Linked DNA regions of Homo sapiens. The protein of the gene in region 1 purifies or fractionates together with the protein of each later gene. This does not show direct contact. Each region holds a gene or a part of one and is shown on either strand. Other genes may lie near its edges. The genes, in order: PTCHD3, TAP2, SLC12A6, ADCK2, ABCB9, CYP51A1 and ST7L.

What was found.
Region 2: the proteins of PTCHD3 (region 1) and TAP2 purify together in Homo sapiens (affinity purification with mass spectrometry; one large-scale study listed by BioGRID and IntAct). This does not show direct contact.
Region 3: the proteins of PTCHD3 (region 1) and SLC12A6 purify together in Homo sapiens (affinity purification with mass spectrometry; one large-scale study listed by BioGRID and IntAct). This does not show direct contact.
Region 4: the proteins of PTCHD3 (region 1) and ADCK2 purify together in Homo sapiens (affinity purification with mass spectrometry; one large-scale study listed by BioGRID and IntAct). This does not show direct contact.
Region 5: the proteins of PTCHD3 (region 1) and ABCB9 purify together in Homo sapiens (affinity purification with mass spectrometry; one large-scale study listed by BioGRID and IntAct). This does not show direct contact.
Region 6: the proteins of PTCHD3 (region 1) and CYP51A1 purify together in Homo sapiens (affinity purification with mass spectrometry; one large-scale study listed by BioGRID and IntAct). This does not show direct contact.
Region 7: the proteins of PTCHD3 (region 1) and ST7L purify together in Homo sapiens (affinity purification with mass spectrometry; one large-scale study listed by BioGRID and IntAct). This does not show direct contact.

The regions. Positions count from the first base shown.
Region 1 is NC_000010.11:27,407,628-27,411,772, forward strand, and holds part of PTCHD3 (patched domain-containing protein 3), read right to left. Parts: intron 1-4,145. UniProt on the Homo sapiens protein: May play a role in sperm development or sperm function. However, does not appear to have an essential role in spermatogenesis or male fertility.
Region 2 is NC_000006.12:32,824,915-32,829,105, forward strand, and holds the end of TAP2 (antigen peptide transporter 2), read right to left. Parts: intron 4,121-4,191; coding exon 3,992-4,120; 3' UTR 501-3,991; downstream 1-500. UniProt on the Homo sapiens protein: ABC transporter associated with antigen processing. In complex with TAP1 mediates unidirectional translocation of peptide antigens from cytosol to endoplasmic reticulum (ER) for loading onto MHC class I (MHCI) molecules.
Region 3 is NC_000015.10:34,334,717-34,339,602, reverse strand, and holds the start of SLC12A6 (solute carrier family 12 member 6), read left to right. Parts: upstream 1-1,821; 5' UTR 1,822-2,271; intron 2,272-2,586; exon of another isoform or gene 2,587-2,850; 5' UTR 2,851-2,922; coding exon 2,923-3,193; intron 3,194-4,886.
Region 4 is NC_000007.14:140,692,394-140,695,871, forward strand, and holds the end of ADCK2 (uncharacterized aarF domain-containing protein kinase 2), read left to right. Parts: intron 1-2,269; coding exon 2,270-2,410; 3' UTR 2,411-2,717; downstream 2,718-3,478. UniProt on the Homo sapiens protein: The function of this protein is not yet clear. It is not known if it has protein kinase activity and what type of substrate it would phosphorylate (Ser, Thr or Tyr).
Region 5 is NC_000012.12:122,963,438-122,968,173, reverse strand, and holds the start of ABCB9 (ABC-type oligopeptide transporter ABCB9), read left to right. Parts: upstream 1-1,710; 5' UTR 1,711-1,887; intron 1,888-4,736. UniProt on the Homo sapiens protein: ATP-dependent low-affinity peptide transporter which translocates a broad spectrum of peptides from the cytosol to the lysosomal lumen for degradation.
Region 6 is NC_000007.14:92,127,687-92,131,831, reverse strand, and holds part of CYP51A1 (lanosterol 14-alpha demethylase), read left to right. Parts: coding exon 1-58; intron 59-2,775; coding exon 2,776-2,952; intron 2,953-4,145. UniProt on the Homo sapiens protein: Sterol 14alpha-demethylase that plays a critical role in the cholesterol biosynthesis pathway, being cholesterol the major sterol component in mammalian membranes as well as a precursor for bile acid and steroid hormone synthesis.
Region 7 is NC_000001.11:112,525,142-112,528,641, reverse strand, and holds part of ST7L (suppressor of tumorigenicity 7 protein-like), read left to right. Parts: exon of another isoform or gene 1-2,530; coding exon 2,531-2,629; 3' UTR 2,630-3,500.

The DNA.
Region 1 (4,145 bases):
ATGAAAATTAGCTGGGCATGGTGGCGCACGCCTGTAATCGCAGCTACTCAGGAGGCTGAGGCAGGAGAATGGCGTGAACCCAGGAGGTGGAGCTTGCAGTGAGCCGAGATCGTGCCACTGCACTCCAGCCTGGGCTACAGAGTGAGATTCCGTCTCAAAAAAAAAAAAAAAAATTGAAATGTGGCTAGGCATAGTAGCTCATGCTGCACGCACCAATGGGGGTGGCTCACAGTGTAATCCCACCACTTTGGGAGGTTGAGGTGAGAGGATCACTTGAGGCTAGGAGTTCAAGACCAGCCTAGGCAACACAGCAAGATCCTGTCTCTACAAAAAATAATAAAAATTAGCCAGATGTGATGGCATGTGCCTGTAGTTCCAGCTACTCAGGAGGCTGAGGTGGGAGGATTGCTTGAGTTTAGGAGTTCAAGGCTGCAGTCAGTTATGATTGTGCCACTCCACAGCAGCCTGGGCAACAGGAAAAGACCCTGTCTGAAAAGAAAAAAGAAATGTGAAGAAAAGAAAGCATAATAGAGGAAATGAAGGACAAAAAAGTTATAAGACAGATAGAACATAAATTTAAAAATGTTACAAGTTCTTTCTTGTCAGCAATTACCTTAAATGTAAATAGATTAAACTCTCCAATCAAAAGACAGGTTGGCAGAATGGATAAAACAACATGATCTAACTATATGCTGTTTACAGACTTACTTTATTGCCAAAAATATAAGTAGATTGAAAGTACATAAAAGGATACTCTACACAAATAGTAACCAAAATAGAGCAGGAATGGCTACACTAACATCAGGCAAAACAGACTTAGAGACAAAGGAGTACATTATATATTGATAAACGGGCCAATTCCCCAAGAAGCTATAACAACTGTAAACATATGTGTACTGCATAACAGATACCCAAAATATATGAAGTAAATATTGACAGAAGTGAAGGGGGAGATAGAGCGCTCTACAATAATAGCTGGAGAGGACTAGGCGTGGTGACTTACACCTATAATTTCAGCACTTTGGAAGGCTGAGGTGGGTGGATCACTTGAGGTCAGGAGTTCGAGACAAGCCTGGTCAACATGGTGAAACCCCATCTCTACTAAAAATACAAAAATCAGGTGAGCATGGTGATATACACCTGTAATCCTAGCTACTCAGGAGGCTGAAGCAGAAGAATTTCTTGAACCTGGGAGGCACAGGTTACAGTGAGGCAAGATTGTGTCATTACACTTCTGCCTGGGTGACAGAGTGAGACTCTGTCTCAAAAAAAAAAAAAAAAAAAAAAAGAAAAAAAACTGGAGAATGCAATATACCACTTTCATCAATGCATGAAACATCTGAGAAGAATATCAATAAGGACATAGAGAAATGAACAACACTACAAACCAATTAGACCCTACAGAATTATATAGAAGACTCAACCCAATGACAGCAAAATATACATTCTTCTCTAGTGCCCATGGAACATTCTCCAGGATAGATCATACATTCAGCTGTAAAACAAGTCTAAATAAATTTTAAATGATTGAAGTTATACAGTGTACGTTTTTCTAACCAACAATAGAATAAAGCTAAAAATCAATAATAGGAAAACTGGAATATTAACAAATCTACAAAAATGTAACAATACACTATTAAACAATCAAGAGACATTAGAAAATACTTAGTTAAGAATGAAAATGAACACACAACATACCATAACTTATGAGATACAGTGATAATAGTGCTCAGAGGGAAATTTATAGCTAAATACCCACATTAAAAAGAAAAAGGATTTCAAATCAATAACAACTTGTGGATCTAGGGAAAGGAGGGAAACCAAACCCAAAGCTAACAGAGGTGTGTTAGTCTGTTCTGCCCACTGTAACAAAATATCTTAGACTGAGAAACTTATAAACAACAGAAAATTGCTCCTTACAGTACTAGAGGCTGAGAAAGCCAAGGTCAGGGCCAAAGATTTGGTGTCCAGTGAGGATTTGCTCTTTGCTCCACAGATGGTGCCTTCTTGCTATGTCCTTACATGGTAGAAGGGGCTAATAAGCTCCCTCGGAATTATTTTTAAGAGTATCAATCCCATTCTAATCACCTCTCAAAGGCCCCACCTCATATTACTATCACACCAGGAATTAGGTTTCCACATAGGAATTTTGGGAGGACACAAACATTCAGGCCACAGGAAGAAGGAAGGAAAGAATAAAGATTAGAACAGAGGTGAATACAGAATAGAAAAACAATAGAATGAATCAATCCAAAAGTTGGTTACTTGAAAATATCAACAAAATTGACTAAATTTTACCTAGTGTCACGAAGAAAAAGAGAAGACACAAATAACTTAAGCTGACATGAAAGCGGAGACGTTACTACTGACCTTATAGAAATAGAAAAGTTTATAAGAGAATATTATCAAAAACTGTATGTCAACAAACTGGATAACCTAGATGAAATGCATGAATTCCTACAAAAACACAAATGACCTAAACTGACTTAAGGTGAAATAGAAAATCTCAAGGCCTATAACAAAAGATTAAACCAGTAATAAAAAAACTCCCAATAAAGAAAAGTCCAGGACCAGATTTCACTGATGAATTCTACCAAACATCTAAAGTGGAGGTAACAGGAATCCTTCTCAAACTCTTCCAAAAAATTGAAGACGAGGAAATATTTCCTAACTCACTCTGGGAGACCATCATTACACTGACACAATACCAGACAATGACATCATAAGAAAAGAAAACTACAAACCAATAGCTCTCATGAATATAGGTGCAAAAGTCATAAACAAATACTAGTAAGTCCAATCCAAAACGTATTAAAAGGATTATACATCATAGCCAGCTGGGATTTATCCCAGAAAGGTCATCGGGAGAAAGTCAGTCAATGTAACATACCATATTTATAGAACAAAGGACAATAACCACATGTTCATCTCACTAGATGTTTAAAAGGCACTTGACAAAATCCAATACCCTTTCATAATAAAAACACTAAAAAACTAGGAATATGAAGGAAAATTCCTCAAAATAATAAAGGCATTTATAAAAATAGTAAAACTAACATCATACTCAAGGGTGAAAGAATGAAAGCTTTCCTCTAAGATCAGATCAGATCAGAAACAAGACAGAAAAGACTCCCACTTTCCCCATTGATATGCGATGTTGTACTGGAAGTTCTAGCCAGAGCAATTAGATTAAAAAAAAAATAAAAAGCATCTAAATTGGAAGGGAAGAAATATAACTCTCCCTCCTCAGAGATCACATGATTGTATATATGAAAAATACCAAAGAATCCAGAAGAAAACTACTAGAGTTAACAAATTCAGCGCAGCTTCAGGATATAAGAGCAACACCAAAAAATTAGTTGTGTTTCTATACATAGGCAGTGAACAACCCAAAAAGGAAATTAAGAAAGCAATTCTATTTAAATAGCTCTAAATGAATGAAACACCTAAGAATAATTTTAACCAAGGAGGTGAAGGATCTGCACACCGAAAACCAGCAAACATTGGTAAAAGAAACTTAAAAAGACCTGGATAAATGGAAAGATCCTTAGTTCCTGGGTTGGCAGACTCAATATTTTTAAAATGCCAGTCCTACTCAAAACAATCTGCAGATTCAACACAATCCCCATCAAAATTCCAACAACCATTTCCCCCCCAGAAATAGAGAAGCTGATTCTAAAATTCATATGGAATTGCAAGGAGTCTAGGATGATCTATATAATCTTGAAGAACAACAAAGTTGAAGGAATCAGTATTATTCAGCCATAAAAAGCAATGGAGTTCTGATACACGCTACAAGGATGAACCTTGAAAATATTATGCCTAGTGAAATGAGCCAGTCACAAAAAGATAAATATATGATTCCACTATATGAAATCTTGAGGAAAATTCACAGAGACAAAGTAGATTAAAGTTAACTGGCACTGGGTTGGGGGTGGTGGTGGTGATGGGGAATTTATTGCAAAATGTTAACAGAGTTCTTGTTTGGGATGATGCAAAATATTTGAAAACAGATCATTGTGATGGTTGCATGCCAATGTGGATGTAATTAATGCCACCGAATTTTACACTTAAGAGTGGCTATAACATCATATGTTATGTCATATATATTATTATATTTTACCACAATAAAGTATTTTTCATAA
Region 2 (4,191 bases), on another chromosome or scaffold:
ATTTCTCATTCTGATTTTCCAATATTTTAGACAGATTTGTTATTGTTGTTTGTGTGTGTGTTTATTTTTCTCATCTTTGCTCCCTTATCCTTCTGGGTTTAGTATCTCTGTTACTTACATGATAATATTAAAAAGCAAATGATAACTACAATACAATGCTACTTTCACCCAGAAGATTGTCAAAATTTTAAAAATTAACACTGTCTGTTGGTTATATACATATATATATATATGGAGAAACAGATAAACTCATATGTTGCTGCTGGAACTATAAATTAATATAGCCTCTATGAAGGCAATTTTGCAATATCTATCAATATTTGTAATGTATATATTGGACTCAGCAACTCCCCTTTAAGATTGTATCATACTTGTATTTTTGCACATGTGCATTACAATGTCTATACAAGACTAACTAGCAACAGCAAAAGACTTCCAATAACCTAACTAGCCATCAGTAGAAGGAAACAGGATAAATGAAATATGGAACTTCCATAAAATAGAATACTACATAGCCATATATTTTTAATTTAAAAAATAAAGTTCAGAACAGTGAACTTAGACAGCTGCTGTTTGCGAAAATACTGAGCAAGAATAAAGATATACATATTTGCTTAATACACAGTAAACTTCTCTGGAAAGATAAACACAAAGCTGGAAGAACGGATTGCCTATGCAAGAGGAATTAGCAAACCTTGAGAAGGATTGAGAGTGAGGCTTTCCTCTGTATACTTCTTTGTGTCTTTTGAATTTCAAACCACATTCATATATTGCTTATTTAAATAAATAAATAATATATTTTAAAAAGAGGATAGTAGGAAGATAAGTGGAGTCAGGGAGTATAGGCAACTCTTTTGAGGAGTTTTATGCAAAGCTGGGCAAGTCCACCTCTTCCTTAGCTATGTGACCCAGGCAAGTTAGTAAATGTTTCTAAAACTCCATTTTCTCACTCTTAGAATTGAGATAGTAATACCTGCCACATAGAATTATCTTGAAAAATAAGGTAAGAAGACAGGTTTCAGATACTTGGCACAGCAATAGCACATAGTAAGCACCAGTGAATGCTTAGTAGTAGTAGTAGTCTAATTCCTAAGAGTCCATGGAACTCTAGGTTCAAAACCCAGTTTCTTCTGGGACCATTAGATGGCATCAGACTCAAGCAGGTGCTCCTCTAGCTGACAGCTCTAAAACACAAGGAAGATCTTTGTTTTCCTTATTCCCTAGTCCTTTCCCCACAAAATTCTGACAATTACGCATTTCCTGCTTGTTTCACAATTGCCATGTGGATTACAAGTGGCTATCCCTGGGTGGAGGCATAAAGGACTTGAAACTCAATGCTGTTTCCACATAGGGCCGGGCAGACAGGCTATGGAGGTGTTTTGGCATCCAAGGAAATCTATCAGTTTCCCAAGCTTTCCCCTCTCCATTCATACTTTCCTTTAGAAAGAATAAGGCATGCCTGGGTGGGAAAGATACTGCAGGTAAGCGACAAGAAGGGGAAATTACAGGGTAAGGAGATCAATCAAATGGTGATGGGGGGTAGGAGTGAACAAAAAGAACTCTGGAGCAAACCAGGATTAGTGACATCTGTGGTTCCCAGACAAACCACACTTACAGGAATTTGTCTGTCTAGCCCGAATATTTTGACTTTCAGGGAGCATTTTTCTGTGTCCCTGACATAAAGCCTACCTGGGAGTTTCCCCTGAGATAAGAAACTTTCAGGACATCTTAAGGTCTACTGCATCTTCCTGTACTGCCCATCAAGATAAGTTTTCCACCCAGCTTTATCATGATTAGCTGCGTGATTTCATGTCAGTTTCTCTGTAAAATTAGGTTTGACTGTTGCATTATTTTTAAGATGCCTTCCAGGCTTAAAGTATTATGATGCATGGGTATAACTGTACTGAGGAAATCAAAGAATTTCTCAGATCATCTTCTTCTGTGAGGGCTGCAGCTTCCATGTAGTTGGGAGATACAGGAATTATTATTCCTGTTTTATGAATAAAGGACATTTGTGGGAGAGAAAGGAATCAGGCCAGAGTTCTTTCTCTCCAAATGCCTATTTTACCCTCTGTGAAATTTGAGAGATGGATGGGTGTGGAGCTGCAAGTCAGCCCCAGGATGAAAGAAAGGCAAATCTGCACAAGAAACTGCCCACTCTCACCCCATCCTCACTGCACCCTGCTCCCAACAGCTGCCAGGCAAGAAAAAATCCAAAACAGCAGTTCTGGGGAATTCATTGCCAGCACTGGAAACTACCTGCTGTTTCCAGGAATATGAAGGTTTCTCTTTCCTAGAATAGCAACTTTCCAAGGTAAGTCCCTCCCAACAACCAGTGATGTGTACAATGTTGCATTTTCAGTGGTGGGAGTGGGCAGGGAGGATTAAGATTAGTACGATGGTGGAGATATTTATTCATTTATTCAATTGACTATTTATTCTCCACTATGAATTAGGCCCTCGGCCAGGTAGCAGATATAAAGCTTAATAAGATATATGGCTTTCCGCCCAGGTGCTCATGGTCTAGTGGAAGGTCAAAAAAGGTGGGAAAGGGAAGATAGAACTTTAAAAGGGCTGTGAAAGAGGTAACCGCACAGTGATAGAAGCACATGGAGAGTTCCCCAGACTGACGACATAAGTAAGGCCTCCTGGAAGACCTGAACCCTGAGTTAAGTCTTGAACTTGAAAATCAGGGGCGAGTCGAGCAGAAAATGGGCAAGAAAACACCATATGCAAAGGCACAAAGGTGTTGGGGAAGGCAGAAGTTTGTCGTGGAGCTGGATACAACAGGAGAGGGTGAGACAGATGGGCTGGAACAGTGTGTGCTCTGAAAAGGATCTCTGCAGCAGGGCTTGAGAGCACCTGAAGGAATTTCCAGAAATGCCATCATCGTATGTGACACAGAATTTAGAAAAATGACTTTGTGAAGAATGGCCGGAAGAGGGAAGCTAATGGTAGAGAAACCTCTCTGGTGATGGGATCATCTTAAGTCTATGAGTGAAGACTATAACAACGGGACTGGAGAGAAGAGAATAGATTCTGAATTATTTAGAGCTAAGAGCAGCAGAGCTTTTCTTGATGGGATTATGGATTAGGGTTTATGGACCCAAGATGCAATATAATTGATTGGGTCAGGGTGTGGACTCTAGGGTCAGGCCTGTGTTCAAACTCCAACTCCACCACTACGACCACCTTGGGAAAGTCATTGAGCCTCTTTGAGCTTCAGTTTCCTCATCTGTAAAATGGGGATAATAACCAACCTCATAGGGTTGGGGATAATGATTAAAAACGATAATACATGAAAAACACTTAGCATAGCTCCTACTCCCATTAAAACTCTATAAATGGTAGCTGTTACCAATGTCGCTATTAATACTGTTAATCAGGGAACTGTTCTCTGTCCCTCCAGACCCTAGCTTCTTCAAAATAGCAGACACTGGTAGGAACAAGGAAGGATATAGGAAGGCAATCTCATGAATATTTATGTCATTTTTGGTTAATTTCTATCTCAAACAACAGATAAACGACTGATGGGACAGGCAGCAAAATAGCAACTATGGTTATCTCCAGGAAGTGAAACAATGGGTACTTTTACTTTTCTTCTTTGTACTTTTTTATATTGTCTAAATTTTCTATATGAATGTATACAGTTCATGTAAGAAGGAAAATATTTTAAAATATATGTATTATGCCACAAAATACTCCTCATCACCAGGCAAAGCTCTAGTCACCAGGGAATTAAGTTTCCTGGACACAGACAGCCCCCACCCCACCCCACCCCACCTCTCTACCCCACCAAAAGCACACAGTGTCCAAATCTCCATCGTGCCTGCAACTCAGGAACAGCTATCTGGCCGCACAGCTCTAGGGAAACTCAAAGCAGGAACAGCTCTGGGTCCTGGAGACGCCCCTGAGAAGAGGGCCCAGTATCCCTGGGGCCTCAGTCCATCAGCCGCTGCTGCACCAGGCGGGAATAGAGGTCCTGTCCCTCCTAGAGCTGGGCAAGCTTCTGCAGCTTGCCCTCCTGGAGCACCAGGATCTGGTGGGCGCGCTGAACTGTCTGCAGCCTGTGAGCAATCACCAGCACTGTGCGATCCCCACGGGAATTCCAGTCCTGCAGCTGAAGGGGTGATCACAGTGCCTCAGAAAGACAGGAATGAGATGGACACCACATCCACCTGGGCACCATCT
Region 3 (4,886 bases), on another chromosome or scaffold:
GTGTCTCCCTGAGAAAATAAAGAGATCCCTGGGGTATTAACGTCTGAGACATACATTTATAGAGCTTGGTTAGTGCTCAGAAACAAGAAAAGTCTTAACAGGGATAGTATATTGGAATTAGGTGGTACATATAAGTAAATGCAGATACACTGGTAGGAAATTGGGTTTCATAAAAATTCTGTGTTTCTTTATAAAGGAAAAGTCTGAAGTTTGAATGAACGGCAGGCCTGCCTGAGGAAAAAATTGATCCTGCTGAGGATGGATGAAAGCTGTGGGCCTGAATCAAGAAACCCAGACTTTATAAAGAGTCAAACTTTAGGAGGTTTACACTTTACATTAGGATTTCTCATTTTGTTACCAGGATCTTTTTAACCTTTTTGATCCTTTAATCCTTGAAAGGATTTGGACTTTGTGTGTCATTTGATAAAAGAGAACTTCCGGGAATACAGTTCCCATTGCTAGGAGTGCTGCTTAAACATAACCACTTGTGAGGAGCCAAGACCCCAGGCAAAACCGGGGGCCAGTTTCTGGGCCCAGGTGATTGTTAAATTTAGAGGTCTTGATCACAGCTATAGGAAATAGCTTTTCAAACAAAACATTGGTGAGTCAGAATTTATCGAACACCACCATTTATACATTAAATAAACACTAAGAAAAAATATTCTAGCGACAAATGTAGTGGTGAAAACATGGAATGGATTTGAGAAAATACATCAACGTCTTCTCCAGGTATAAAAAAACGTATTATTTAGTGGAACTTTCAGTCTGACTAGAAAGTGGACATAGCATTTATTAAAAGGACAAGAACAACAACAAAAAATTAAAGTAGGACAAATGTGTTTAAGGTACTTTATAGTTTTATTTTTATTTATTTATTTCTTTGAGACGGAGTTTTGCTCTTGTCCCCCCAGGCTGGAATGCAATGGTGCGTTCTCGGCTCACTGCAACCTCCGCCTCCCAAGCTCAAGCGATTCTCCTGCCTCAGTCTAAGGAATAGCTGGGATTACAGGCACACGCCACCACGCCCGGCTAATTTTTGAATTTTTGGTAGAGACGGGGTTTCGCTATGCTGGCCAGGCTGGTCTGGAACTCCTGAGCTCAGGTGATCGATCACGCCCGCCTCAGCCTCCCAAAGTGCTAGGATTACAGTCGTGAACCACCGCGCCAGGCCTACTTTATAGTTTTAATTTTTTTTTTTTACATAAAAGTGGTTTATTTGTATGTAGACCTCTACATAAAAATTACAATGAGGGTTATTCCCAGGTATAGGAGCGGTGTTTCTGGTTAAAGAAATCATGAATGATGTTTTCAGAGACACTCATGAAAGAGAAATGGCTCCCCGGGTTCTGAGGGTGAGGAGCAGCGCCCGCCCTCTAGGATGCTTCCAGAGTGAGTGTGCAGCACAGCCGGACCGAGGAAAAGGATTATTCCCCTCTTCACGCGGGTCGGGCCGTGCCCTGGACTACAGCTCCCGTCGTGCCCCTGGCCACTCGTATTCGGCCCCGCCCCGCCTGCCGTGTCCCGCGGCGAGCGCAGGCGCGCTGCACTCGGTCACCGCGGGCTGCGGCGGCTGGGCGGGGCTTTCGGGCGCCCGCGGGACGGTTCCGCCCTCTCACTGCACCCCCGGGCTTCTCTTCGCAAGGTTCACCTCGAATGAGGAACAAGCGGGGAGGGAAGGGAAGGGCTGCGGCGGCGCGGGCGCACCCCGTCGGGCCCGGGGCTGGGGGAGGCCAGGTCACGTAACTGCTGCTCTGGCGTCGGGCCGGGGAGGGGGCGCCAGCCCCGGCAGCGCGAACCCTGCGCGCGCCGCGGCTCTGAAACAGTTACCGGCTAGTAAACAACAGCTGCGCGCGCACCCGCATCAGCTGGCGCCGGGATACTGCACCTGCGACCTCCTTCTCCCTCACCCTGCTGCCCAGTCAGGCCAGCCTGCGTGGCCGTCTCCTCCTCTACTGGGACCCTGAGGAAGAACGACGAGGGGGTGACCTGCGCCGGGGCGGGGGTAGGGGAGAACGCGCCTCCGGCAAAGGGGGTGGCTCGTCCTGTCACACGCAGGAGAAACCTAGCGAGCGGACCGTGGCTCAGTGGACTAGCTACGACTTGCCACGACTCTGAGCTGCAGTCCGAGGTGTCTTGATCCGCTAACCTCCTCCCAGACCCCGAGGACCTTTCTGCTAGGAGAAGAGCGGGCGCGCCACCCCCACCGACCTCTCGGAGACAGGAATCCGCTCTGCCCCTGCATCCTCCTCTGCTCACCCTTCTCTCAGTAGTGTGGGTTATTTTTCCCGTTATGCATGTGCACCTTTCCCACCAGACCCAAGTGGATTGTCGACATCAAAAACACCGGGTGGCTTTGCATACACCTCCCCCCAGCCAGACCTGTGGGGTATTCACCTGATACACAACAGGTGGCCGGGTGTACACCTTTTAGCAATCTGATCCACGCTATAGTCGCCTGATAAAGGTTTGCCTGCACGCACTTCGCCCAACTAGAACCGTGGGACACTCACCAGATAAAGGACTACCTCGACAGGAAACTGGGGGCTGAGGGGAGGGAGGCTTCATCTGCTGCCCTGAGACCATGGCACTGAGCCTTCAGCCCCGGACCAGAGGGGTTAGCTAGGTAGCTCTTCATTCTGAAGGAAAGAAGTCACACAAGATTGGCATTGTTTTGTCTTTTTGTTTTTTGTTTTTTTCTCTCTTAAAAAATATATTCACCTATTGGTGATGCACTTTCTAGGACAGTCGGCTTGAATTCTGAGTAGAAGTATTCTTAGTTGGGGCTTTTTGTGTGGTGTGAATCAAGGTTATTGAAATGTGTTATTTTTCAAGTTATCTTTTGTATTGCAGTCAAAAGTAGCTAGCGTAAGAGGAAGATTTTGCGAGGTTCCCCCCACTTTTTTTGTTCTTAAAAAGAACAAAATGCATCCTCCAGAAACCACCACCAAGATGGCTTCAGTTCGGTTCATGGTGACACCGACAAAGATCGATGACATTCCAGGTTTGTCAGACACCAGTCCGGACCTCAGCTCTCGATCTAGTTCCCGAGTAAGATTTAGCTCCCGGGAAAGCGTGCCTGAAACAAGCCGGAGTGAGCCTATGAGTGAGATGTCTGGGGCCACCACTTCGCTGGCAACTGTTGCACTGGATCCACCCAGTGACCGGACTTCTCACCCCCAGGATGTCATCGAGGGTAAGTAGAAACACAGACCGCAGCATACTTTCATTACTGGGTTCTTTATCCAAGATGACCATCTATGGATCTGGAAGATCATAATCATATAATTATGATTATAATAGTCATCAGGAACCAAGGCATCTCTTTGTGAGATGCTTAGGAACTCTTTGGAATAATAGCATAGTGGCTCTTTGCAGTAGTAATTTGGTATGTGGGAAGGTGTATGACAAGAAGGAAGGCAAATGTATATTTTAACTTCCTCATTTTTGTCTTCTTAGAAATGAAATGGGTATTTTGGTTAAAAGTGAATATCAAAGAATGTAATCGTTTTCAGCACACAGAATCCTAAATTTTAAAATTTAGTGAGTTGGATATGTGTTCTGTAGCCATCATTGGCTATTTCAGTCTGCTTTAAGACTGGTTTCATGGAGTAGTTACTGGTCGTATCTTAGCAGCTTTCCTCCAAGACTTCGAATGTGTATTGCAAAATTCTTTTTTGAAATCTGTATTTTTATGGAGACCTTGACACAAGTAGCTAAGCCCACTCAGGGTGATGGTGGGTAGACCTAATGTGCTATTCTGTCAAATGGAAGACTTCTGAAAAGGCTTTTAGGGCCTGATTCCCATGTAATTTATTCTCTCTGAGCTTTAGATGGAAAGTCTGATGATTAGAGTTAGCAGGTAGCACACAAGCCACTCCTGGCTCATGTTGACTGCTACAGACCTTTAGCTTCCTAAACCAGTTTGTGTGTGTCAGCTGGCTTGGTTTTATTTGAGGTACTGGGAAGAGGTGATGGAAGAGAGAGAAGAGAGAAAATGGGGAGATCATAACATTTTTTGGACTCTGAAATTTAAAAGTTTGAGACCTGTACTGCTTTATATATTTAGTTTTATGCTGTGTTGTAACTAATGTAATCTTTTAATGATAAAAATTTCCCTTAAAGACTCTTAAAATAATATTCCACCCAAGTTTGAAAACCATAGCCTCACCCACTGACTTGTGAAAGCAAGGCTTACTCACCATTTTCCGGTGTCAGGAAATATTGTTCCTTTTAACCTAAAGGGTTCAGGAAACCAGAATGATTTTAGTTCCCTAATTCTGTTTGTGTTTTTAGTATCTGGAGACAAGGTAGATTTGGTAAAGTTTACAGTCCTAGAATTCACTCATCCTTGACTAATCATTTTTTCTTTTATGGAGACATAGGTTGGTTCTCAGACTTTACTGTTTTCAACTTTTTGACAAATTTTACAGTGTGTCATACACTGGATTAAAATTACAGTATGGAATACAAATTTATCATTTCCTCTTCCTCCAAATTAATTCCAAATTGTGGTTTTAGTTTTTATCCATCATGCTGTATTTAGGTTGTAAAAATTCCAGGTAAAGACTATACCAGTGTTAATTTCTTAATATTGTAATTATCATTAGGTAATTTATAGTTTAGTTTGTTAGACTTGTGACTTACATGTTACAGAATTGTATTTTTATTCTTTGGAAAAGTGGACTTAGTAATGTGTTAGACCAGCAGAACAGGTTCCTTGTCCAGTCTGCGGTTCTTACGTTACCCTTAAGCATTCTTTACAGTCTAAAGTGGTATCCTTTTACACTATAGGGGTAAAAATGGGACTACAGGGGTAAAAATGGGGACATATCTAAGTGAAATTTATGTTTGTTTACGTGGTTACAGATGTTAAAAGCTTGGTTCTC
Region 4 (3,478 bases), on another chromosome or scaffold:
GTCACCGAGGCTGGAGTGCAGTGGTGCAAGCTTGGCTCATTGCAACCTCTGCTTCCTGGGTTCAAGCAATTCTCGTGCCTCAGCCTCCCAAGTAACTGGGATTACAGGCAAGTGCCACCATGCCCAGCTAATTTTTGTATTTTTAGTAAGAGATAGGGTTTCGTCATGTTGGCCAGGCTGGTCTCGAACTCCTGACCTCAAGTGATCCACCTGCCTTGGCCTCCCGAAGTGCTGCGATGACAGGCGTGAGCCACCGCGCTTGGCCTGTTATTCTGTTGATGCTGTTGATGTTCACGTGGGTTGCTTCCACTTCTTGGTTATAGTGAATAATGCTGCAGTGAACATGAATGTGTAAATATCTTTTCAAGATCCTACTTTCAAATTTTAGAAAAGTTTTAAAAACATTTAATGTAGCCAGTAAGGTCTATACATTGTGTTCTTGCTTTCCAGTTTTTAAACATATGCCCCAAAGTAGGTTTTCTGGATCATATGGTATGTTTTTAGTTTTTGAGGAACTTCCATAGGAGCTGTACCATTTTATATGCCCACCAACAGTACACAAGGGGTCGTTTCTCTCATCCTCACCAACACTTGTCATTTTCTGTTTTGTTTTTAGTGGCCATCCTAATGGGTGTGAGGTGATGTCTCATTGTGGTTTTGATTGCATTTCTCTACTGATTCATGATGTTGAACATCTTTTCATATGCCAATTGGCCATTTGTATAATATATCTTCCTTAGAAGAAATATCTATTCAGGTAGCACTTAATTTTTTTAAATAAAGTATTTGACAGTAACACAGAGATAAAGGAATCTAATCCACACTAAGAACCCCCCACCCAGCTTCAGAATGAAAGCATTCCCAGAGGTGTTAGAGCCCTGGGTTCCCACCCGGACCAGAGCCTGTGTGGCCAATCTGCCAGGCTGGAACTCCACAAGCTGCTCCTGGGAGCATGCTGCTGCTTCTGGATCCACCTGACCCCGACAACCTTCCAGCCCTTAACGGAGACAAATACTCTTTAATTTCTAACAAAGAATATTTCCCATGATTCAACCTTCCATTTCTTGACCTTCTGTCCACTTAAAAAGCAGATTCCTGTTCTTCTAGGTTTACATCTGGCTCTATTCCTCCTCACTCAGTGGCCTTGAGCAAGTCATTGAACCTCTCTGAGCCACAGCTTCTTTCTCTATAGAATGGGGATAACGATGATACTTTTGAAGAATAGTTGAAGAATCCATGTCAATTGCTATTACTACTAATCTGGCTCTGAAGGGACAGCTGTACCCTGTTTGAGCAGTCAATTGTGTGTTGTCTCTGATTTTTTTTATTTTTTTGAGATGGAGTTTCACTCTGTTGCCCAGGCTGGAGTGCAGTGGAGCCATCCTGGCTCACTGCAAGCTCTGCCTCCCGAGTTCAGGCCATTCTCCTGCCTCAGCCTCCCGAGTAGCTGAGACCACAGGCGCCTGCCACCATGCCCGGCTGATTTTTTGTATTTTTAGTAGAGGCAGGGTTTCACTGTGTCAGCCAGGATGGTCTCGATCTCCTGACCTCATGATCCGCCCGCCTCGGTCTCCCAAAGGGCTGGGATTACAGGAGTGAGCCACCACGCCCGGCCTGTGTGTTGTCTCTTAAAAAGGCTATTGTAGACCAGCTGACATGGCTCCTGCCTATAATCCCAGCACTTGGGGCAGCCAAGGTGGGAGGATTGCTTGGGGCCAGGAGTTCGAGATCAGCCTCGTCAACATTGCAAGACCCTCTGTTTACAAAAAAGAGTCCCAGTCTCAGGAGGCTGAGGCAGAAGGATCCCTGAAGTCCAGGAGCTCAAGGCTGCAGTGAGCTATGATCTTGCCATTGCACTCCAGCCTAGGTGACAGAGTGAGACCCTGTCTCTAAAATAAATAAATAAATACATACATACATAAAGGTTACTGTAGGTTTCGAAGAATTACCTGTATTTAAATGTATAGTTTCTGGGATGTGTGTGAAAGATTTATTTGGTCATTCATTCATACACACATGGACACAAACCTAGAAAAGTATATTCCGCACCCCTAGATTTTTCCTTAGTGTGTCCAGTAGATGGGAGGCTGGGCGAGTAGGTGAGATGGTTGGGGAGATGACGCGGTAGAGAAGAGAATGTCAGGTAGATGGTAAACATCCCGTGGGCAGGTCTGAGGGAGGCTGAGAGTGGACAGCAAGGTGATTATCCAGAACACACGTCCCTGTATCAGCATGTTCTGAGATGAACTGTTCTGTTTTTCTGTTCCAGGTAAAGCTTGAGAGCAACTTTGCCTCCATTGTGTTTGCCATCATGGTGTTGGAGGGGCTTGGCCGCTCACTGGACCCCAAACTGGACATCCTGGAGGCAGCGAGGCCCTTCCTCCTCACGGGCCCAGTGTGCCCCCCGTGATGGGGCAGTGGCCTCTGTGGGCCCTTGTCAAGAGCTGGAGGCCACTCCCAAGAGCCTCTCCTATGGCAGCTGGGACGTTTTAAAATTGGGACACCAATTTCAAATGTAACCCTCCAGTGGTGGAAGGCACACCATGGCTTCCTCTGCTTGGTTTGAGGGTCTGTTCAAAAGCTTTGGGCCAATTAGGGAGTAAAAGGAGGGAAGGGGCCTATCCATTCCATTGTGGAAGCTGGGCCAGGTGCCAGGGACACTCTCCTTCAGGGAAAATGTTATGTGGAGGAGGACGAATAAATTTATTTTGTTTTCCTGTTTTTCTCATTTCTTGACCCGCTATACTCCCTGGTCAGATGGGTACTGCTGGTAGTTCCCAGACTTTGATATTCAGGTTAGAAAATGCCATCAAGTCCTACTGATCTGTGGCATGTGCACACACACACACACACACACACACTCTTTATGTATAAATATCATGCAGGTGCTACCTGCCAGCATAATATACACTTAGGGCAAATTTCATTGTACTTCAAATTATCTTCTTGGTAATTTTTAATAGATTTTGCTAACTCCTTGGTAACTTTTATTACAAGGTAAAACAAAACTGATGAAAGTGGCTGACATACCGGGGACGTGAGCAGAACGGCTTGGCCACTTCCTTAACATGGCCCCGGGTTCACCCGCTAGTCCGGAACTACAGTTTCTCTGCCACAGTGTCTGCGCCTGTCCACTTGCAGGCATTAATTTTGGTGAATATGAAGAGAGTTAATATAACCAGTGTGTCCTCTTCTCCATGGCAGCGCCCAGGGACAGACCTGCAGTGACCACCACCTGCCCCTCTCTGCCAGGCCCAACCACGGGCTTTCTTCTCAGAGCTGAGCTGATGTGGCCGTCTGGCTGACTAGGAGGGGCCCGGGGTCAGCCTGGAGGGGGGGTATTTGTAAAGCTTAATTTCTCTTTTTTTTTTTTTTTAGGTAAAATCACAGTTTATCCCTGCACCTTCATAGATTATGTTGCTCGTCTTAGAGACCACCAGGCAGCGAATGGAGTCAAGCCCTTGCGCTCTCCGAGAGT
Region 5 (4,736 bases), on another chromosome or scaffold:
GTAACATGGTTCAACTTTATTCTCTCCTTGGTTTTTACTCAATACATTTAGGAGGTCATTCCATACCTTTATATAACTCTATGTCTTCTATTTTTTTTTTTCTGGCTACAGAGTATTCTGTTGAACAGGTGTTCTCTAATTATTTGGCCAGTTCCCTATGGAAGGGTATTTAGGTTATTTCCAGACTTTTGCTACTGTAGTAACTACCTTTAAGCTAGTACCTTAGCTCCCTTGCACAAGTCTATCTGTAGAGGAAATTCCTTCTGGGTTAAAAAAAAACATAGTGTTGTAAGTTCTGAACAAATTCCCCTCTAAAGAAGCTGTCCCACCAAGTAGCAGAGGACATTTCCAATTCAGAGAGTGCTCCAAAAAGCCTCTGTTCAGGGCTGGGCACACATGGCTCACGACTCTAATCCCAGCAGTTTGGAAGGCCAAGGAGGGCAGATCACTTGAGGTCAGGAGTTTGAGACCAGCCTGGCCAACATGGCTAAACCCCATCTCTACTAAAAATACAAAAATTAGCCAGGCGTGGTAGCGGACACCTGTAATCCCATCTACCTGGGAAGCTGAGGCAGGAGAATCACTTGAAGCTGGGAAGCAGAGGCTGCAGTGAGCTGAGAACTCGCCACTGCACTCCATCCTGGAGTCTCTGTCTCAGGAAAAAACAAAGCCTCTGATCAGAGGATCCAGGGATGTGGGCAGTTCTAGCCCCACCTGCTGCCCCTCTGGGCCGTAAGTCCACTCCCCCACCCACTTCCCACGGTTCAGGCCACATGGACCCTTTTCTGGTCCTCAAGTGGCCAAGTTGGTTCCCACCTCAGAGCCTTTGAACTTGCAGGCCTTAGCGTAGGATGTTCCTCCCTCCCCGTGGCTCACGCCTTCTCACCTTTCACTTACACAATTTTATTTATTTTACTGCATCCAGTACCTGAATGGCCTTATGCACTTACTTGCTGATGTTCTGTCCCCTTCACGCCATGAAGGCTGGGAGTTTTCTGTCTTTTCACACACAGCTGTGTTCCCAGCACCTGGCAGTCACTGAGGACATATCGCTGCCTCCCCTCTCCAATGCCCCGAATCCCTGATCTTGCACCAATTTTCTCCGTAAAATGTATTCCCTTCCAATATATCTCATTTGCTTATATGTGTTGTCTGACACCCTCACTAGAATGTCAGCTCCAGAAGGGCAAGGATCTTGTTTTGTTAATTGTTTAATTTCAAATGCTTAAAAGGGCATATGGCACGCCGTAGGCACTGGATAAATATCTGTTGGGTGAACGAATGAAAGAATAAGTGAATGAATGAGGACCATAACCCACCCTCCTGGACTGGCTGGCTGTCCCTCCAGGGAAAAAGGCCAGTTAAAAAGCTGGCCTCCTTCAGGTGAAACCATTTCCGTCCCCTCAGGATGGGCCCGTGGCTCCAGGTGGAGGCCAGCACGCAGTGTGGAGGGCCTGGTTGGCCAGATGTGGGAGGAGTTTGCCACAGGTGAGCAGGTGGCCAGCTGTGGCCCCGCCCCCAGGAGGCCCGTCCCCACCCGGAGGCTTCGCCAGCCCCCTCCTCGGGGGCCCCGCCCCGTCCAGGAAAGCCCGCCCACTCCTCCTGAGGCCCCGCCCCTCCCGGGAGGCTCCGCCGGTCCCTGCCCCAGGATCCCCGCCCCCTCCGTCACTGAGGCCCCGCCCCGTCCATCAGCCTGTCTCAACGCACGCCAGTCTCAGCTCCGACCTTGCAGCGGCGCAGCGCGGGTGGGAGGCGGGGAGGAGCAGCGGGAAGAGCGGAGCGAGGACCGCGTCCGGCGCAGTCTTCAATGAGCAGCGCGGAAACTGCACCCCAGACCCGAGCCTGCTGCGCGCCCCCTCCCAGAGCTCACCTGGTGCCAGGTAACAGGTAAGGGCAAGGCACCCTAGACCCCTGGTTTTGGGACCTTTCCAGGCCAGGGTGCCAGGCCAGGCACGCGTTGGGGGGCGTCTGGGCACCCCTGCCTCGGTGGGAATAGGCATCTCGGTTGAAGGTGGGAGCCTCCCTGGAGCCCTCCCGGAGCCCGCAGCCGCAGCTCCCAGCCCCCATCCCTGCAGCATCCTTTCCGCGCCCGTAGGGCGAATGTTGCCATTTTTTTTAACCCCCAAGGCGCCGCTGCCTCTTGGAAAATGTGGGAGGTGTTGGAGGATCCTGGGATGGCTGTCGTTCCCCCAGGACGGGGCTGGCGCGCCTTCTGAGGGCTCCCACTGTCCATGTCAGGGCTTCCCAGGGATCCTGAGCACCAGGGCTTTGGCAGAAGCCTGGGGGATCTGGCCTGTTCCTGCTGACCTGGGCAAAGCCCTTTTCTCAGTCTCCTCAGCAGGCCAGTGGGCTGCCGCTGCTCCCCGCCATCCACGCTGGCAGTGAGGCCTGTAGGTTCCCAGGGGAGCCTCTTTTATTTCTGGGCCTCTGGAAAAAAAAAAAAAGCCTCCTCCCCCGGCCTGACATTAACTGAGACAGCTTTAAGCTGGGCTGACAGGATCCCCGCCTCTGCCCATTCCCCTTTTCCGGATAGTGCAGGGCCGGGTGACAAGAGGAGGCTTGGAGGGAGGGCACCTCGCGCCTCTCTGCCTCTCCTAGAGCTGAGAGCACCTGAGACAGCTTCTCAAGTCCCAGAGTGAGGCTGGGCCCCACGTGGGCTGCCAGAGGCTCAGCAGGGATGAAATCAGGATGGACCCACGCAGACCCAGCCCGCTCCTGCCCCAGAGCCAGGGACCCCCACAGTCAGGCCCTCCCACCCAGCAGGCCTCTGTCAGTCAGTGCTTTGCTGCGCAGCGAATGGAATGGGCTTATCTGGGTCTGGGCCCACACCGGGGTAAAAAGCTCACCATGTCAGGGGTGAACCGAGGCCACTGGGCCACCCAAGTTCTTTGGCCCCTTTTCTTGCAATCCCTGAATAGCCTGGACAGGGGACCCCCGAGTCTCCATCCTGGAGACCCTGGATGCGGGTCTCCATCCTGCCTTCGTCCTTTTTCTGCGTGTCACTTAACCTCTTCTGTCTCCCCAGCTGTAAAACGAAGCTGATGACCACAGGGTCCTCCCAGGGAAGTGGGGAGGCCTGGCTGCTTTGGGAGGTGCCAGGCACATAGTAGGGCCCGGTGAAGGGTCTCTGTTGCAGTGTCATAATAACTTTTATCTATTGTCTCCTGGCCTTCTCTGCAAAGGGTCTCTGTTGCAGCGTCATAATAACTGCTATCTATCGTCTTCTGGCCTTCTCTGCAGCTGATGCCTAGAGATACCCCAACCAATGTCTCCTACCCTGGGAAGAAAAGCCTTTGACAAGACCCCTGGTGGGGACAAGGCCACTTGCTTATCCTGTGCCATTCTTTAGTGCACGGAGTCAGGGCGAGCCACCCCTGTCTTCCTGGGCCTTGTCCGGTTCTGGGTGGGGCCTATTCTGGCCACCACCTTGTCCTTGTCCCTCAGGCCAAGCAGGTCACCCATGTGCTCACAATTTGCCCTCCAGCTCCACCTGGCCGAGCCCAGCGCATCCTCTGAGTCAGGCAGTTGGAGAGCGGTGACAGGCCTCTAAGCAGCCTTGGCTGGTGGTCACGCTTCTGCCCAGTAGCTTTAAAAATAACGGAGTAACTGTCCCCACCGAGGACTGTAACCCGACCCGGGGCTGGAGTCCACTCTGCTAGGAGTCTGTGGTAGAAGGACTAGTGCTTGGGGGCAGGGACCCAGGTGCTAGCACTGCTCTGCCCCAGCCTGGTGGATGACCTGAGACAAGCCTCACCCCCTCCCTCTGTGGGCCTCAGTTTCCCCATCTGCAAAATGTGGCTTTGGTAGTCTGCGATATGAGTGTTTGAAATTTTGTTTATTCTGATGAAGATAAATAGGCTTCTGGAGGCGGGGGGCATGACTGGTACCCTGGGCTGTTGGGGGATGGGGAAGGAATTCCCCCAGAGGCTGGGAGTCAGGTTGGGAGAGTCAGCCAAGCCCCTGGGCTGCTGTCCAGGTTTTGAGTCTCTTGCGGATCTGCCTCCTGTTCCACTTCTGAGCCCGAGCCCCTTTCTGGGGACTGAGGGACCCCATGTGCCCACCACGAGGAGAGCAGCAGCTGAGGCGGCTGGCAGCACCTGGTGCAGCCGGCAGTGGCTTGGCTGGGAGGCCTGGAATGGCACCAGGCCAGGAGCTTCCCTCCCTGGGCTCTGACTGGAGCTCACCCACTCGCTCGCTCCCCACGGCCTCTGCATTGCAGCAGACAGGAGCCTGCGTGGGCAGCACAGGCAGGGCTGGGGAGGGAGCCAGGACCTGGGCTGAGGGTGTCCGACCATCCTACCCACTTCCCCTTGCCCTTGACCCTGCTTGGCCCTGACCGTCTTTGGAGGGGCAGCTGCTGACTAAGCAACTGTCATCTCTGCGATGGGCTTCGGTGTGCCTGGAGGTGTGGGGGTGAAAGCAGGGCCCAGGCTTGGAGGTTGTTATATCCCCCCACTCCATTCCCCCTCTGCATCTCAGACCCCTTCTCAGCATTAGTAGGGGTTGTGCCTACCTCCTGGAGAGGCTGTTTTGAAGGGTTGGAGCTATGGAGTTGAGAGTACAGATTTTGGAACTGGACGGCCAGGGTTCACATCCCAGCTTGTGACCCAACTCTGTGGGTCACCTAGCTCTGTGACCCAGGGCAGGTCACTTAATCTCTCTGTTCCTCAGTTTTCCTAACTGTAAAATGGGGATAATGATAGGACCTACTTCATAGGGCTCTGGTGAGTGCTGAC
Region 6 (4,145 bases), on another chromosome or scaffold:
GCATGCCATAGCATTTGGGAAAAGTCCAATTGAATTTCTAGAAAATGCATATGAGAAGGTAAGTCTTCCAAATAATTAGAGGAAAAAAAAAAAAACAACTAGAGAAGTGCTTTTTAAACTTTTTTAAAAAAGTGGCAGAACATTTAAAAACATTGTAATCATATACATATCCTCAGTATAGGAAACAAAATGGAAACTGCTCTGGTTTAAGAGATGGTGTCTTATAGATACCTATCCTTTTAGCTTTTCCCATGTCCTGGGGTCGTCTTTGAGACACCATTGAGGAAACCTGTAGTTCTGGCAACTATGGTTTAAAAGCCACTGTTCTGAGTTTTCTATTCACTTATTGTCATTAAAATTGATATTAATTAACCCTCATTTTTCTTTACCATGCATCTGTGGGGTTTTCTAACCTGCTCTATACATCTTCTGTGATTTCACTGTCCACTTGAATGACCCACATGACACCATAGCTACTCAATTATTTGCCCGTCTTCTCTCTAATGAGCTTCCCTGTGCCAGTTAAGCCATTTACTTCACAGTCTCGCTTTGGACTTGTCACTCTTAACTGTTTCACTTCCACAATATTAATTTAGATATCCTATTCGTAGACCATACCGTCTCCTGGTTTGCTTGTGCAACTCCTTAAATTATAACTATTCTTTGACCTCATTGGATCTTGCATTCCATTTACTTTCTCCTGATCCATCAGCCTTCATTCTTCACTTTCCTCTTTCCGCTTTGGGTCCATGGCATGTCGTTTCTGTTACACTCTTGGCAATACTGTACTTTAAATTTCCTCGACCCCGCATCTTTTCATTGTGTTCAGCTGGCAGAAGTCACCCTTGGAGGCAGCCAGTTATTGTCTCCTTCTGCACCAGATTAGTTTCTTCCTGATTTTATGATTGCCTACCTTAATGATATTTGAACACTGCTCCACAGTCCTATTATGTTCTTGTGATTGGGCCTACTTTTCCACTCATTACAGTGACTAATTCAAACCTTCACTTTTCTAAACTTCTGAATCTTTCTACCTCTCCATCAAAGCAGATGATTTTTTCTCCTGTTTAGGAGACAATGATTAAAAACGTTGATTTAGGAGACAATTATTAAAACATTCAAAGAAAACTTCCTCATTTTCTCAATTTCAAATATGCAAACCTACTTGTATTTATATAGTAATCCTATTCTCTTTCTTCCTATCACAGTAATAATTATCAAACACTTACTTTATGCCAGTACTTAGTGCTTTACAAAGATCATCTCACTGAAGCTCCACAAAAACCCTTTCAGGTATATTTGTTTTATAGATGACAAAACTGAGAAGCAGAGAGGATATATAATTTCTTCTTGGACTCACTGCTAGACAGTGGCCAAGCCAGGATTTACACATGGTCTGATTTCTGAGCCTATACTTTTATTAATGATAACAATAATGGAAAACAAGTCATTAAGATGCTAAGTAAGCCAAGGTACTCTTCTCTGCCCTGTATATAAAATTTGGCAGCAGCTCTGTGAAGAACTGCTATTATTATTATTACCATTTTATAGGTGAGAGAAACGAAACACAGAGAGACTAAGTTCTCTGACTATAGGACCAAAGTCATACAGCAAGTAGGTGGAGGAGCTGGGATTTGAACACGGACAGTCTGGCTCACTGCGTTCTACCACTTTGATTTTATTACAACTATATTTTGCCTCTTATCGGAGGCTGAACTCTCCATCCCTCTTTTGTCTCAGGAACTTTTTACTTTTATTTGTTTTCTCAGTGTATTGTTGACTTCTTTTTCAATGGCATCTTTCCTTTTTCTCTGAAAAATTCTTGTCACCCGTTTAAAAACTTCCTCAAAATGGCTTATGAGGCTCTGTATGGTCTAGCACTGCCTAATGCTCAACTCTCATCTCCTCCTTTCTCTTTCTCTTACTTTTAGGGCCTTTGTGTATGTTTAGCTACCAAACCAGCTCCTCATTCTTCTGGTCTCAACCTAGTTGTCTTTTCCTCTATTAGGTCTCCCTTTTTTAGATTCTCTCATCACAGAGTTGCTTTCCTTTCTGTAATACTTGTCACATTTGCAGTTTTATGTTTGTTAATGTGATTATTTGATTAATTTGTATTTTTTCCAATAGACTAAGCTTGGTGAGTTGGGACAGTATTTTTTTTCATGATTATACCCCCAGAGTCTAGTCTTCAATCATAACCAGAAAACTGCAAGGGAAAGTATTTAACATCTAACCAAATTAATATAAAATAAAAAATGAAGTCATTTAGTGTAGGTGAGATAGTGCTAAAATAGATAAATAAACTTGTAGTGTCTTCACATAGCAGGTACTATAGAAAAGGTCAAATTCTTTGGCTAGTCTTGTAAAATTTGTTTTTAACCAAAGGGGGAAGAAGTCTATATTTTCAGAGGTGTTCATCACAGAATTAGCTGTAATAACTAAAGAAAACCCTGACATATCACCCATATGTCCAATAATGAAAGAGTAGTCAGTAAATTAACATTGTGATGTTTATATAGACAATAGAAAACATTGTCAATATAAACTGAAAAAAGCATAATAAACAGTTATATTTATACTACATTTGCAACTAAATGAACATAATTATAAATTTGGACAAAGGAAGGAGGAGTATGGCAAGATGAAAAGAATTGCTTTAAGGTTTATATATGTTTTTATTTTTTTAATAATGCATTATTTTGTGATTTTAAAAAGTTACTGTCGTAGTGTTGCATATTTTTTGTAACATCACTATATGTACTTTTCTCTTTTTAGTATGGACCTGTATTTAGTTTTACCATGGTAGGCAAGACATTTACTTACCTTCTGGGGAGTGATGCTGCTGCACTGCTTTTTAATAGTAAAAATGAAGACCTGAATGCAGAAGATGTCTACAGTCGCCTGACAACACCTGTGTTTGGGAAGGGAGTTGCATACGATGTGCCTAATCCAGTAGGTGACACTGTTACCATAAATAAAGACAAATCTATACCTCAGTAGTTATAGCTAATAGTGAGACATTATACATTTAAAATGTAGAAACAGCCAGGCATGGTGGCTCATTCCTGTAATCCCAGCACTTTGGGAGGCCAAGGTGGGTGGATCACTCAAAGTCAGGAGTTCAAGACCAGCCTGGCCAACATGGTGAAACCCTGTCTCTACTAAAAATACAAAAATTAGCTGGGTGGGGCTGGTGGTGCACACCTGTAAATTCCAGCTACTTGGGAGGCTGAGGCATGAGAATCGCTTGAACCCAGGAGGCGGAGGTTGCAGTGAGCCGAGATCACAACACTGCACTTTAGCCTTGGCAACAGAGTGAGACCCTGTCTCAAAAACAGAAACAAAAAACCAAACACACACACACACACGCACGCGCACACACACACACACACACACACACACAGAAACCAACCAAACAAAAATGTAATAAAATGTAGAACCAGTTTATTCCTTGGTTCAAAAGTCTGAAGAATCATGAGAAGAAAGGCCATGGATAACTGATAAGTAATGGGTATTTAGTTTTATATTTGCTGTCATGGCTAAACAATATTAAAGGGCTTCCTGTACAAATAATGGAATCAATGATAACTTAGCATACTGGGATTTAATTTGAAAGGGTTATTAGACAATGCTGTTACTTCATCAAAAGGACTTCCTGCCTACCCATTCCTGCCTGAAATTCTAACATAAGCGCTGTTTAGAGATTGCTGACTTCAGAAGTCCTCTTTTAATGCAACAACTTCACGTGTGGGGTACATCTATGTGTATGTTTTACCCTCAAAAGCCAAATACGAAATTGTTTTAAGTTGATATAGAACACAAATCAGACAATTGGCCCCAATGCTTGGTATGGGCTCTGGCTGTGAATGTAACACACATTAGCCAGTACCCTAGTATAGCAGTTAAGAGTTAACATTAAATCTTGTTTCTAGTGATGGGGAATGAGGGAATGAATGCCTCTCCTTAAGGCCAAAAAACAGGGCCCTGGAAAATCCCTCTGTTCAGATATATATATTCATTTAGACTCTATTCATTTAGAGTCAGATAGATCTATTCATTTAGACTCTTAAAATGTAAATGCCCAAAGGGTTAAAACCATTACTTGTGTTAGTGTTACATAATTATAATAACCTAAATGGATTTTA
Region 7 (3,500 bases), on another chromosome or scaffold:
CTGGGCCTGTAAGCCTACATTAATGTATCACAGTACTGGATAGGATATTTGATATCTCTTACTTAGCCCAGAATCTCAAATGATAAGGAGCTGTAGTTAATGATATGTAGCATTTTGTTGAACTTTACAGTGTAGATCTCTGTTAGTCCCTGGGTCTGTAACAAATGGACTCATCCTTGTGCTTTTCCATAGGTGCCCTGATGTTTACTGACATAAATCAAGATACTATGTGGCTCTATAGGGGATGCTGAACCATTTGACAGTCTAGGTGCACACAGTCACCTCACATTATTTAAGCCCTGATCTCAGCATTCTAATTTCTCTGTATTCCCCAGTGTATATAATGTGTACTTGCTTGAAATTCCTTATATATTGCTTGTACATTCCTGCTTCTAAGTTTCAGCACATACCAGTTCCCTCTATTTAGAATGCCTTCTTCTGACTGCCCTCAGTCAGTTCATAAAACACATAAAGCTATCTTTTAAAAATTCAACTCAAAAGTCACCTCCTGTGGAATGCCATCTCTGCTTAATCTCATTAACCTAATTCCTTTATTCTCAGACTTCTGCTTCCTAGTCCATTAAACTGTTTCATTTTATTGTAATTGTTGCTTCTGTATATTGTCACCCAGTAAGCATAATTATTCTAGGAATGATCATCTTCCTCCAGCCTCTTGTGTCTACTTATTACACACAAATATTTTGAAGGCCTATTGATGACCTTTTCAGTTTCCCCAGAGTTCCAGTTCACCTTCCTTACTGTTTCCTTTTACTTCATAGTTACATTCCTAAAGAAGCAGCGCATGTGTTCAGGGTTGGCCTCCACCTCAGCATGTGTGTGGCAGCCTGCTGAATAGATCCCTACAATTGGGAAGGAGTTAACCCTCTAGCTTGACAATCTCTGCATTCTACTTAGACACCTTCAAGAAGTAGATGTGAGACCAGGAGTAGACCTGAAAATGGGAGTAGGTAAATTTCCACGGAAAGCCAAGTTAGCTTTTTCCTTCCTTTATACACAAGACCTATGAAGCTGCTGTCATCAGCAGCTCATTCAACACTCTCCTGCTCTGCCTCTTTTCCAGGAGTCAGGGTTAGTTTAAGAAAAAGCCTCTTGCAAGAAGCCATGACCTCGTACTTTTATCCCCTCCATCTGGTGTGTGGCCTCATGGGGCTGTGCTGCTATGCAGGAGGTGAGCAATGGAATTCTTTAGATGATGACTTCTGAGCCCACATGCAGAGGCAGTTGGGGGTGGGAAGCAGGGAGAACAGTGAGAGCCAAGATCGATGGACCAAAAAATAAAGTCTGCCTTGGGGAAGTCCTGACTATAGGTAGACTGTTTTCATGAGGTGTTCTTCTCCTAGCTCAAGTAGGGGCCCAGGTCAGGGAGCTGCAGCATCCCAGAGCTATGATTGATGAACATTGTACTTTTCCCTTCTGTCTTAACAGTTGGGGTGCAGGATTAGGATAGGTAGCCTATGCTGTCTCTAACAGAAAACATTACAGGATTGAACAGAAGAGTTCCCCTTGCATACGTCATCTTTTGGAGCTGCTCTTACTCACTGTCTTGCGCCTAAACAGAGGTCCAGATTTTGGATGGGAAAACAAAGAGGGGTTGAGAGCAGCAAGTGTTTGATCAAGTGAAAATCTGCTGTCTGCCTCATCTCATGGGTTTCTCTGCAGGATTGAGACCCCTTGCCTTGGTGTACACAAATTGCTTGCATCAGCTTGAGATCCCAGGACCTTTGCCAGGCCACGGGTAGGCATCTGTCTGGCTTGGGATGGGAGTTTCTTAGGACACTTATTCCCTCATCTTGCTTTCCTAACCCAGGAGTTGACGTCATTTTTAAAAGGAGTGAAATCTCAAAGAAAATTCTAATACATACCTTCTTTTTTTTTTTTTTTGTGACGGAGTCTCGCTCTGTCTCCCAGGCTGGAGTGCAGTGGTGCATCTTGGCTCACTGCAAGCTCTGCCTCCTGGGTTCACGCCATTCTCCTGCCTCAGCCTCCCCAGTAGCTGGGACTACAGGCGCCCGCCACCAGGCCCGGCTAATTTTTTTGTATTTTTAGTAGAGACAGGGTTTCACCGTGTTAGCCAGGATGGTCTCAATCTCCTGACCTCGTGATCTGCCCCACCTCGGCCTCCCAAAGTGCTGGGATTACAGGCATGAGCCACTGCACCCGGCCTCTGATACATATTTTCAAAGCCTTAATAATTTTCTGTCATGACTACTTCTACTGTGTCTATACATTTAGCATAATTTCAAAAGGACTAGATAAAATTTTTAATGTTAATCTGAAGGGGAAAAAAGGAGTAGAATTAGGAGCCAGAGTTGTTTAAATGTGGAATATGTTGTATAGTGGTCACATGGTACTGGTGGTAATAGTGGCAGAAATGGCAAAAGAGCCATTGGTTGATAAGGTTCAGGAGGGCCTAGGCTGTTCCTTTGTAAACTGTGCTCAGATATACTCTCTTGGCTGTCCTGGGACTCCTACAGGGCTTGAACATTTTGTATCAATTTCTGTTTTGAAGGTGCTGGGACTCTGGTGCCCCCAACCCTGGGCATCCTCAGGCTTTGAGGAGAATACACAGGATTTGAAGTCAGAAGACCTAGGTTTGAGTTCTGGCTGAGCCACGCACTGTTCATGTGACCTTGGACAAATCACCAAATTTTTCTGAACAGCATCTGTAAAGTGACAGTAACCCCTACCTCACAGGGTTGTTGTGAGGATTACATATATGCTAAAGCATTTTGCATATGAAAAAGCTTCTTATGAATATTGTTATTCCTAGGCAAACCCCCCTTGGAAGCTGTCAAAAAGGACAACTGTAGATGAAATTGTCTTCCTTTTTTCTTCATTCAGCTTAGCCTTTCTGTTTGGCCAGGGCTACTTACAGGGGCTGTTGGGGTTGAAGTCAAGTCACCGCATTTTGGCTCCTTTGGTCAAAGAGAAAGAACTCTAATGTCCAGCTGCTCCATCGATATACTCATAGAATGGAAGTGAGCAAAGGAAAATTTTAAGCCAGGATAGTTAACCGTTAGGGGGCCAGTGGGAGAATGCTTGCCTTGCATTTGCACATCCAGAATGACTAAAACATCTTAAGTAAATGAGGAATAGCCACCGAGATGCTCAGAGATAATATAAGCCATGAGTGGGAAGTGGGAAAATGAGTTTGTCAACGCCCTCTCTTTTCTATCCCTTTACCTTTGAGGTCAGGGACAGGGCATATTACTGACACCCCACTGGCTATTGCCCTATACCTGCCAATCACCCAAAGAAAATAATAGCTTCTGAGAAAGCTCAATTCACTGTAGCAACTGTGATATATTTACCCTAATAAAGCCACCACTTGGTCTTTTCCAGTGCTTCTCTCTTATGGAGATCATCCCTGGAATCCAAAGCTCTCCAGTTTTCTAACCCAGTTAAGAGTTAAAAACAACCACAGGTCATGAGCAGTAGGCTTGGCAGTTATACCCCATGCAGTCATAGGAGACTGCTCC